Homo sapiens: one gene and its partner. The protein of the gene in region 1 purifies or fractionates together with the protein of each later gene. This does not show direct contact. Each region holds a gene or a part of one and is shown in the gene's direction. Other genes may lie near its edges.

Region 1 (5,067 bases):
GAAATAGGGAAGGCAGGACCCCTCCCTAAGAGTCATATGCCTGATATTGAGGGGCTGCTCTGTATGGGACCTAAGGAGATCTCCATAACATTTTGCATGTGAGGGAACTGGCCCAGAGAGAATCAGGGATTTTCCTGAGGTCAGAGGGCAAATATGGCGGAAGCAGGAATTGGAACCCAACCATTAACCCAGACTCATCCTCCAATAAGGGGATCTCTAGGGACCCTCCCAGCTCCGCCCTTCCTGAGCCTGGGTTTGGAGGGTTCTTCACTGGAACTCCTGGGTCCTGGCAGAGGGGCTTTGGGGAGGGTCACAGCTGTATGGATACCATGGCTTGGGAACTCCAGCTAGAACCTGGAGGTGCCTCAGCCCCTCTCTGAGTCCAGAGCTCTCTCTGCAACCCAGGGAAGAAGCGAGTCTGGGTGCCTGATGAACAGGACGCCTACGTGGAGGCCGAGGTCAAGTCGGAGGCTACCGGGGGCAGAGTCACCGTGGAGACCAAAGACCAGAAGGTTCCGTTCCCCCTTTCCTGAGATTAGCCTCTCTGTCCCTAGGCCTCCTGGCCAACAGGATCTGCCCTCTGGTTGAAGGGGGTCTGGGTATGTGGGTGGGGGTGACAGGTGAGGTCGGTCGGTTCCTCCCGGTCCCCCGGCCCCTGACACGATCTCCCTGGTAGGTGCTGATGGTGCGTGAAGCCGAGCTGCAGCCCATGAACCCGCCTCGCTTCGACTTACTGGAGGACATGGCCATGATGACGCACCTGAACGAGGCCTCTGTGCTGCACAACCTGCGCCAGCGCTATGCCCGCTGGATGATCTATGTGAGCCCCAGGCCCGGGCCATGGGCGGGGTGGGGCTTGTATGTGGGGCGGGGCTAGAGATGAGGTGCTGGGGGCGGGCCCATAGCGGTGGGGCGGGGCTGTGAGCGGTGGATCGGGGCTGTGAATGATAGAGCGGGTCCATAGCGGGGGTGGGGCTGTGAGCGATGAGGCGGGGCTCTGAGCAGTGGGGGCGGGGCTGGAGGTTGGGCCTTGGGACCTTAGGGGAGCAGCTGTAGCAGTGCGGGGCGGGTCTAGAACTCACCTGCGGACTATGGAGGCCGTGCGTGTGGGCTGGGGCAGGGCTGTGAGCACAAGTCAGGGGTGAGGCCAGGACGGCCACAGAGGGTGTGGTGTGGCAAGTCAAGTAGCTCCTTGAGGAATATCGCAGGGTTCTTCTGAAGACTGGGGCCTGGGGCCTGGGGATGGGAACTTGCGTATCCCTCCCAAAACCCTACCTATGGGGGGAGAATGTGGTGGCCCATGCCTGTAATCCCAGCACTTTGGGAGGGCAAGGCGGGCGGATCACCTGACGTCAGAAGTTCGAGACCAGCCTGGCCAACATGGTGAAACCCCGTCTGTACTAAAAATACAAAAATTAGCCGGTCGTGGTGGCACGCGCTTGTAGTCCTAGCTACCCTGGGAGGCTGAGGCAGGACCCAGGAGGCGGAGGTTGCGGTGAGCCGAGATCATGCCGTTGTACTCCAGCCTGGGAGACAGAGCAAGACTCCATCTCAAAAACAACAACATAAACCCTACCTATACTCTCTCTTCAGACCTACTCAGGCCTCTTCTGTGTCACCATCAACCCCTACAAATGGCTCCCAGTCTATACGGCCTCCGTAGTGGCTGCTTACAAGGGAAAGCGCCGCTCAGATTCCCCGCCCCATATATATGCGGTGGCGGACAACGCCTACAACGACATGCTGCGCAGTAAGGGCCGCCTGGACTCCTCCCCAACCGCAGACCCCGACCTCGGTCCCGGGAGGCCTCTGTAAGGGACCCCCTTCCCCCACTGGCACTGCCCCCCTTTTGACGCTGCTGGACATGGTCGCCCAGCCGTTCTGTCCCTCCGCATGGGAGCTGACCTCCACTAGGGACAGCCCCACCTGCTCCTTCCCATTCCTGGCTCTGGGTGGTGGGGTCTGCCCCAGATGGATACCCAGGGTGTTCCACCTGTGGCTGGCCCCACACCTTGGCTGACTTCTCTATCCCCTTCCCTTTCCTCCAGACCGAGACAACCAGTCCATGCTGATCACGTGAGTGTGGGGCTCTGGGGGTGGGGTGGAAAATGCTGGCCATCTGGCAGAAAGAGGGCGGTACCACAGTCATTTCCCAGGATTGAATCCAAAGTGCTTAGGCCAGGACTTTTACCACCTGGAGCTAGTGTCCCAGCTGAAGCTAAATTAGGCCTGAGCACTTTCCCTGCCCCCATTCTGAACAGATGTGTTCTTGATGGGGGATAGGGAGGGGACACCCACAAACGGAGTGACCACCAGCCCCACACCTCCTCTCCCCGGGGCCTGGAATCTCCCACCTTGATCCTCTGGGGTTCTAATTCTGGCTCAGGGGCAGCGGAAAGATTCCTCTGCTTTTCCTCCTTTTTACCATCTACTTATGTCTGAATCTTACCTCTGATCTTTCCATTGCCTCTGTGGGAAAATGGTAGAATAATTCTTACATGCCAGGCTCATGTCCAGTCAGGCCAATATGGACAATGTTTAGTGTGAGTGTGCATGCGCGTATGCAGTTAAGAGCAAGTGCCTTGGCCGGGCACAGTGGCTCATGCCCGTAATTTCTGCACTTTGGGAGGCTGAGGTGGGTGGATCACTTGACGTCAGGAGTTCGAGACCAGCCTGGCCAACATGGTGAAACCCCATCTCTACTAAAAATACAAAAAATTAGCTGGGCGTGGTGGCAGGTGCCTGTAATCCCAGCTACTCAGGAGGCTGAGGCAGGAGAATTGCTTGAACCCAGGAGGCGGAGGTTGCCGTGAGCCAAGATCACGCCACTGCACTCCAGCCTGGGCCACAGAATGAGACTCCATCTCACGAAAAAAAAAAAAAAAAAAAAAAAAGCAAGTACCTTTAACCCAGACGGGCCCGGCTGAGTGTGGTGGCTCACACCTGTAATCCCAGCACTTGGGGAGGCTGAGGCAGGAGGATTGCCTGAGGCCAGGGGTTTGAGACCAGCCTGAGCAACATAGCGAGACCCCATCTTTACCAAAAAAAAAAAATTGAAAAGTTAAATAAAAAATCCTACCTACCACACAAAGTTATGAGTCAGTGAGTTGATATATGTGCCTGGCACACAGCAGGGACAGCCACAGAACTCCTGAGGCCCAGTTCCTTGTTCCTAAAATGGGGGTGATAATGGAGCCTGCCTTCCAGGGTTTTCTGAGCTGTAACTGAGCCAATGGAGTAAAGTGCCGGGCACTGAGTTAGTCCGTAGTGGACAATGGCATCATCGTGTGTTGTCATCTCACAGGGATGGTCTACACTGGCTTGCTTTGTACACCTCTGAGGGTTGATCCATCCTTGGGGGTTTCAAGCTGGGGGGAAGGAGAGGTGGAGGGCTCTGCTTGAGGGGTGAGGCATTGGGGGTGGGGGAGAATTAGGCCAGATGGGCATTGGTGACTCATGTTTGTGTCGTCCAAGCGGAGAGTCGGGGGCCGGTAAGACGGTTAACACCAAGCGGGTCATTCAGTACTTTGCCATCGTCGCTGCCCTGGGAGACGGGCCGGGCAAGAAGGCCGTAAGACTTGCCCACTCGGGCATGCTCCCCGTTGCTTCTCGCTGTTTTTCTTTTCTTTCTTCCTCTCTTTTTTTTTTTTCCCCCTTTTTAAAAATTTTACTCCCCAGAACCCTGAGCCCTGCCTGAGCCTCCCACCCTGGTGGGGGACTCTGGCCTGAGCAAGGCTTGACCACAAAGGCTGTGGCCACCTGACGCGCCTGCCTTCGCCTTCCCATTGGTAAACATGGAGGGGTGGGGCCACGTTGCCGTTTCTAAATTTGTGTAATTTTTATCTTCCATTGTGACCTTCATATATTGAAAGAGTTTACTAGATGGGCTGCTTTTACTAAGCGTTGTTGTCTTGGTTTCCCTGACAGTTACCTGCTGCTGACACATTAGACACAGAGGTTGGCTGGCATGCAGGGCACTGGGCATTCCCAGCAGCCGGGGTTGGCAGGGCAATTTTGTGCCTTGTGATTTCTGTACAGTTTTTGGAAATTTCTGAAACAATGGGGCCAAGTTTTTTTGTTTTTGTTTTTAAGGCATAACATTTCATCCCTAGCCTTGGGGCCAGTTGTTCAGAGCCCTGTGGCTACCCCTAGATGGGCTGCCTTTTTCCAGAAGCCCGAGGCCTCCCTCCCCACCCAGTCCCTGCTCCTGGTCCTGTTAAGCCTTGCTTTATTCTGGGTGTTTTTCTTGTTTTTCCCCTGTTTTCTTTCTTTCTTTCTTTTCTCTTTCTTTTTTCTTTCTTTTCTTTTCTTTTCTTTTTTTTTTTTTTTTTTTGCCTTTTCCTTTTTACCCATTTGATTGTCTTGATTTTTGATTTTCATTTCAGTTTTGTTTTGTTTTGTTTTTGCTGTTGACTTTTTGGTCCTTTTTCCTCCTTCCCTTTCCTGCCCTGTCTTCCAAATCCCTAAAAAGGTCTCTGGGGACGTAACAGAAAGTTGGGTGGGTCAAGTGACAGGAAGAGATGTCAGGGAGAGGCCAGAGCTGGCAGGGACACAGCTGGAAGGGCAGAGGAGCACCTGGGCAGAAAGGAGCTGGGACAGTGGAGCCCAGGGGAGAGGGTCGGGCAAGGGAGGGGTGGGAGAGGCTGCCCGCAGGAGCCATGGCTGCAGGAACTTAAAAGATTGATCAGCTCCCCTTACCTTGGCCCCAAATTTGGCCAAACGGGCTAGAGAGAGCCCTGCACAAAAGCACTGGATGGGAGTGTATTGGGGGGTTCCACCTCCCCTGCCCAATGTCCCTGTGGGTATTTTAACTCTTGGGCTCCCTGGAGGTGAATGAATGACCACAAAGTCCGTGGTGGTATATCTGTTCCCTCCAGAATCCATTCCTTCCCTTCTCTCCCTTTCTTCCTTGGCTCCCAGCATCCGGAGTAGGGAAGAGAAGGAAAGGAAAAGGAAGGGAAAGTGAGGATGAGGCTAGGATGGGGAGAAGGAGGATCTGCTCAATTCACTTAGTCCCCCTGGGTGACACACAGGACCGCTGTGGCGTCCAGGCGGCAGGATGCTGGG
Region 2 (4,668 bases), on another chromosome or scaffold:
CAGATTTCAAGGCCAGAGAATGGCAGGGGAACAGAAACCCTCAAGTAATCTCCTGGAGCAGTTTATTTTACTAGCCAAAGGTACCAGTGGCTCAGCCCTCACTGCTCTCATAAGCCAGGTCTTAGAGGCTCCCGGAGTGTATGTCTTTGGAGAACTTCTGGAGCTGGCCAACGTGCAGGAGGTAAGAACGGTTTGCAAACAATTTCTCTTTATTCTAAGACTCTGTAATTCTCCAGGTTTCCAAAGAATTTCAGTGCTGAAGTATTGTGAACCTGTGAGGTACCCTATTGTGAGACAGATGGGAATTGGTGGGGCAGAGGGAGAGATTGAGAGAATATCCTTGGCTCCTTTTATCCAGTATTTTTATCTTACCTTGGGTAAAATTAGATTGTTGCTAATAATAACCTAAAAGATAGTAAAAAAGTCAAATTGATCCTGATAAATTAGAAAAGTAGTGCTGTAAGCATGGGCTGTTTAATAGGAGTAGATTCATGCATTCTTAAGGACCAGAAACCTCCAGTGCAATATCGATAAGGAAGATTGGTCAGGGACACACAGCAGAAACATACTGCTATTGAACATAAGATGGACATGAATAGGAGTGTATTGTTCTTGAGGAAAAGGGCAGTGTTGTGCTAAATGTGTTAGATGTGTTAGATATGACATGAAAAGCTAGGACATAGTTCATTTTACTTGTTTGCTTGCTTGTTATTAAAACCTTGGATATCCAGTTTTGGTCATTGTGCCTCAAAAATGAGAAGATCCATTGAACAGAAGGAACAAAGAGATGTAAAGCAATCTATACTTCTCAACCTCTACTTTCCAATTTGAACATTTTTATTTATTTATATTTATTCACTTATTGAGAAAAGTCTGTAAGCATCTTTATTGTTTTGTGGGGTGGAGGCTGGTGCTCAGGAGCTTTTGGCGGATTGGTGGGGCAGGTCCCCTTCCTCTTCATCCTCACAGGCTTCTGGCTATGCAGACTGGTGCTGGCTCTGTGGAAGCTGCCATGCATAGATCTGGGTGATGGTACTTCTTGTGGAGCATGTGCTGGATGCTGTTGAGAGTGGCCCCGGAGTTCTTGGTGGTGGCGATTTGCATATAGGAGGTGGTTTGCTTTTGTTGGGCAGTTTATCACCTTCATGACCACCACAACACCTTTGCTGTTGGCTCCACACCCACAGTCAGTTTTAACAGGAGTTTCAGTGAATCAGTTAGTTGTAACCAAAGGAGTTGCCGGCCTTCAGTTTATTGGATTCGGTGCTGTGTGTCTGCCTATTCCTCTTGATGGGGAAACTGGAGCAGTTCCCTACAGTCCAGCCATTTCAGGTGCCCAATTATGTCTCCTCTACCTGTGATGTTCAGAGATGAGAAGAGCCACTTTTACTTTTTCACTGTAAATTTTTATTTAATGTCAGCCTTGCTTGCCGAACTATAAACTCTGTGAGGAGGTCTGTAGTGCTCACCATTGTTTCTTTAGAGCTGAATACGTAGCCTGACACACAGTAGGCTTTCAATAAAAATTTAATTTACCAGAAGTGGAAAATGAGTTTTATGAAGAAAATTTCAGAAAACTGAGTTCATTTTTCAACACAAGAGATGACCAAGGGGTAATATGTTCCTTCAGGTTCATGAACAGCCTGCATGAATATGCCAAGTAGTTGTTTTGTAACTGTGGAAGATTGGCTAAGAGGAGATGGATGGAAAGTAAAGTCAGAAAGACCTTATTGATTTAGGCCAGTGGGAGAAGTGTTGGAGTATCTGCTCTGGAGAAAATGCTCTTTTCCGGCTAGTTTTGTTAATTATGTTTCTGAAAAGGGGGGCTAGATTGGATGGTCTTTACCAGGTTTCTTCCCCTTCTGATTCAGGGACTTCAGGAGGTTTGTGGTAACCTGAGAAAGTAGCCTGAGGTATTATGGTGCTGGAGTTCTCCATAGGGTGCTTAGCAGACCACCTTTATCTCCCCATACATTGCGTTTTTCCATATGTGAGCTGAGAATAAGCTGGTTGCCTTTCAGTGATCTGAAATTATAGATGCATTTCTTGGAAGCTTTATTTTTTTTAATGGCTAAAATTGAGTAGTATCGCTATTGCTGTCTGTAGACTACCACTTGCTATTCCTGTTTAGAGTTTACTGGGCTTGGTAAGTTGGAAGGGTAACAGGAGCACGTTTGTGATTTTTTTTTTTTTTTTTTGAGACGGAGTCTCGCTCTGTCGCCCAGGCCGGACTGCGGACTGCAGTGGCGCAATCTCGGCTCACTGCAAGCTCCGCTTCCCGGGTTCACGCCATTCTCCTGCCTCAGCCTCCCAAGTAGCTGGGACTACAGGCGCCCGCCACCGCGCCCGGCTAATTTTTTGTATTTTTAGTAGAGACGGGGTTTCACCTTGTTAGCCAGGATGGTCTCGATCTCCTGACCTCATGATCCACCCGCCTCGGCCTCCCAAAGTGCTGGGATTACAGGCGTGAGCCACCGCGCCCGGCCCACGTTTGTGATTTAAACAACAACAACAACAACAACAACCAGTTAACGTAATTGACAGCAGAGAAGTTCCAGGCAGAACAGTGGCTCTTTCGTTTTTCTTCTACACATGGCTTTTTGCCATCAGCATCAGTGAAGAGTAAGTAATTTTAATGAACATTTTGATTTGGGGCAGACTGATACCCTGGTTTTCTGTCCCAGCCTGGCTTTCTGTCATACCTTATGATGTGCTGGTCTCTCCCAGGGTTCATAGTCCACGTGTAGTCCTGAAACTTGGAACCAACCCTGAGCTTTGTTCACTTTGGGTTGGTGGTGGCTCATGCCATACCTACCAAGCTGGTATGTAGATAGGGCTGCTCCAGTCTTTGTTTTAATGCAAACAGAATCTTGAGAAGATTTGAACTCCTTCCAATGCTTAATGCTTTGTATGTGTGTGTGAGAGAAAAGCAGTTCGTTGGGCATGCTGTATAGAAAGTAAAACATTCCTGAGAGAGAGAAATTAAATTTGGGGCTTTAATAATCTTGTTTATTTTTTCCCGAAGAACCAGAGTTGGTAGAGACCCCAGGGGCCAAGTAATCAAATAGTACAGAATAAACAGCCATGGCATCTTTGACACATGCTCACCCGTCCTCTGTTTGAACACTACAGTGATTGGTAGACAGTTTGGTCTGTGGTGAACTTTTTTTTTCCTCTTCAGCTTGCGGAAGGAGCTAATGCTGCTTATTTGCAGTTGTTGAACCTGTTTGCCTATGGGACATACCCAGATTACATAGGTGAGTTGGTGAAGATCCTTCAAAAGACTTGTGTTAATTATGTTGCTCAGTTTGGAAGACCATCAAGGTTTGAGATATAAAGCATGGGGTAGTGGGGAGACTTCTTGACCTGGCTGCCTCCCATTTTGCTGTGCCCGGTGGGTGACCTCACAAAGGGAATGTTCCTTCTCACCTTTTATATTCTAGTGGGTCAAATGGGGCCTGTGTGTGCTCATCCACAAATGTAGCCCTTGTTTGTTTTCCAGATGAGATTCTTGAGGACTGGTGTTTGTAGGGCTCTTGGAGTGCTGTGAAGTGCAGAATACCCACCTGTAGAATGTTTCAACATTTTAAATATTATCAAAATAATACCAGCATATTGAAGAAAATTTGGAAAATAGACTTTTTAAAAGTCACTCATAGGCTGGGCGCGGTGGCTCATGCCTGTAATCCCAGCACTTTGGGAGGCCGAGGCAGGCAGATCACTTGAGGTGAGGAGTTTTACACCAGCCTGGCCAACATGGTGAAACCCTGTCTCTACTAAAAATACAAAAATTAGCTCGGCGTGGTGGTGGGCGCCTGTAATCCCAGCCACTCCGGAGGCTGAGGCAGCAGAATTGCTTGAACCTGGGAGATAGAGACTGTAGTAAGCTGAGATTGCACCGCTGTACTCCAGCCTGGGCAACAGAGCGAGACTCTGTCAAACAAACAAATAAATAAATAAATGTCACTCATATGTTGCTCAGACATTTGGATGCTGGACTTTTTTGTGCCCCTTATGTTTGTGTTTTGTATTACATAGGTACAACTATGTATACAGTTTTATGTCTTGCTTGTTTCTTCCCACTTACAAACATTTATCCATATTTTAAGTCTTTTTAATATTTTTAATATTTCATAATCTACTTAGCTCATTTTCTGTTGCAGGGCATTTGGGTCATTTTAAATTATAATCTGAAGTATTAGGTTGAGGTATTTGTATGTCCAAACACTAACTTACCTTCTACCCAAAGCATTTTTTTCTGGCTTTCCTACCCTTTTTTAATGGTATGACTGTAGCCTGATACTCAGGGCCTTCGCTGCGATATCCCTGACTTCTTCTTTCTCCCTGGTCACTTCTACTTTGTGCTGCTGTCAGACTGGACAGTTTGCCAGTTCCTGGTACACCACATTTTTTTCTGACCTTCCCTTTGTTCCAGGGAATGTGTTCTGTTTTTCTGTCCTTGCTTACTAAAGAGGCAGCATTGCACAGACTCTGTTAGCAGACTGCCTGTAGCCAGTCTGGCTCCACTTCTACTAGTTGTGTGTTCGTTGACAAATGAAGTAACCTTATGCAGCTCAATTTCCTCGTCTGTAAAGTGGGAGTAACAATACAAGCCCATTATTCCTTACCTACACTCCTCGAAGTTAGATGTTTCAGAATTTAGAATTT

The links. Proteins that work in one complex are often made in the same cells at the same time.
Region 2: the proteins of MYH7B (region 1) and COPS7B purify together in Homo sapiens (affinity purification with mass spectrometry; one large-scale study listed by BioGRID and IntAct). This does not show direct contact.

What each region holds. Positions count from the first base shown.
Region 1 is NC_000020.11:34,978,985-34,984,051, forward strand, and holds part of MYH7B (myosin-7B), read left to right. Parts: intron 1-405; coding exon 406-512; intron 513-676; coding exon 677-820; intron 821-1,593; coding exon 1,594-1,750; coding exon of another isoform or gene 1,751-1,811; intron 1,812-2,048; coding exon 2,049-2,076; intron 2,077-3,474; coding exon 3,475-3,571; intron 3,572-4,334; exon of another isoform or gene 4,335-5,067.
Region 2 is NC_000002.12:231,788,552-231,793,219, forward strand, and holds part of COPS7B (COP9 signalosome complex subunit 7b), read left to right. Parts: intron 1-3; 5' UTR 4-19; coding exon 20-181; intron 182-187; exon of another isoform or gene 188-2,622; intron 2,623-3,181; coding exon 3,182-3,257; intron 3,258-4,668. UniProt on the Homo sapiens protein: Component of the COP9 signalosome complex (CSN), a complex involved in various cellular and developmental processes.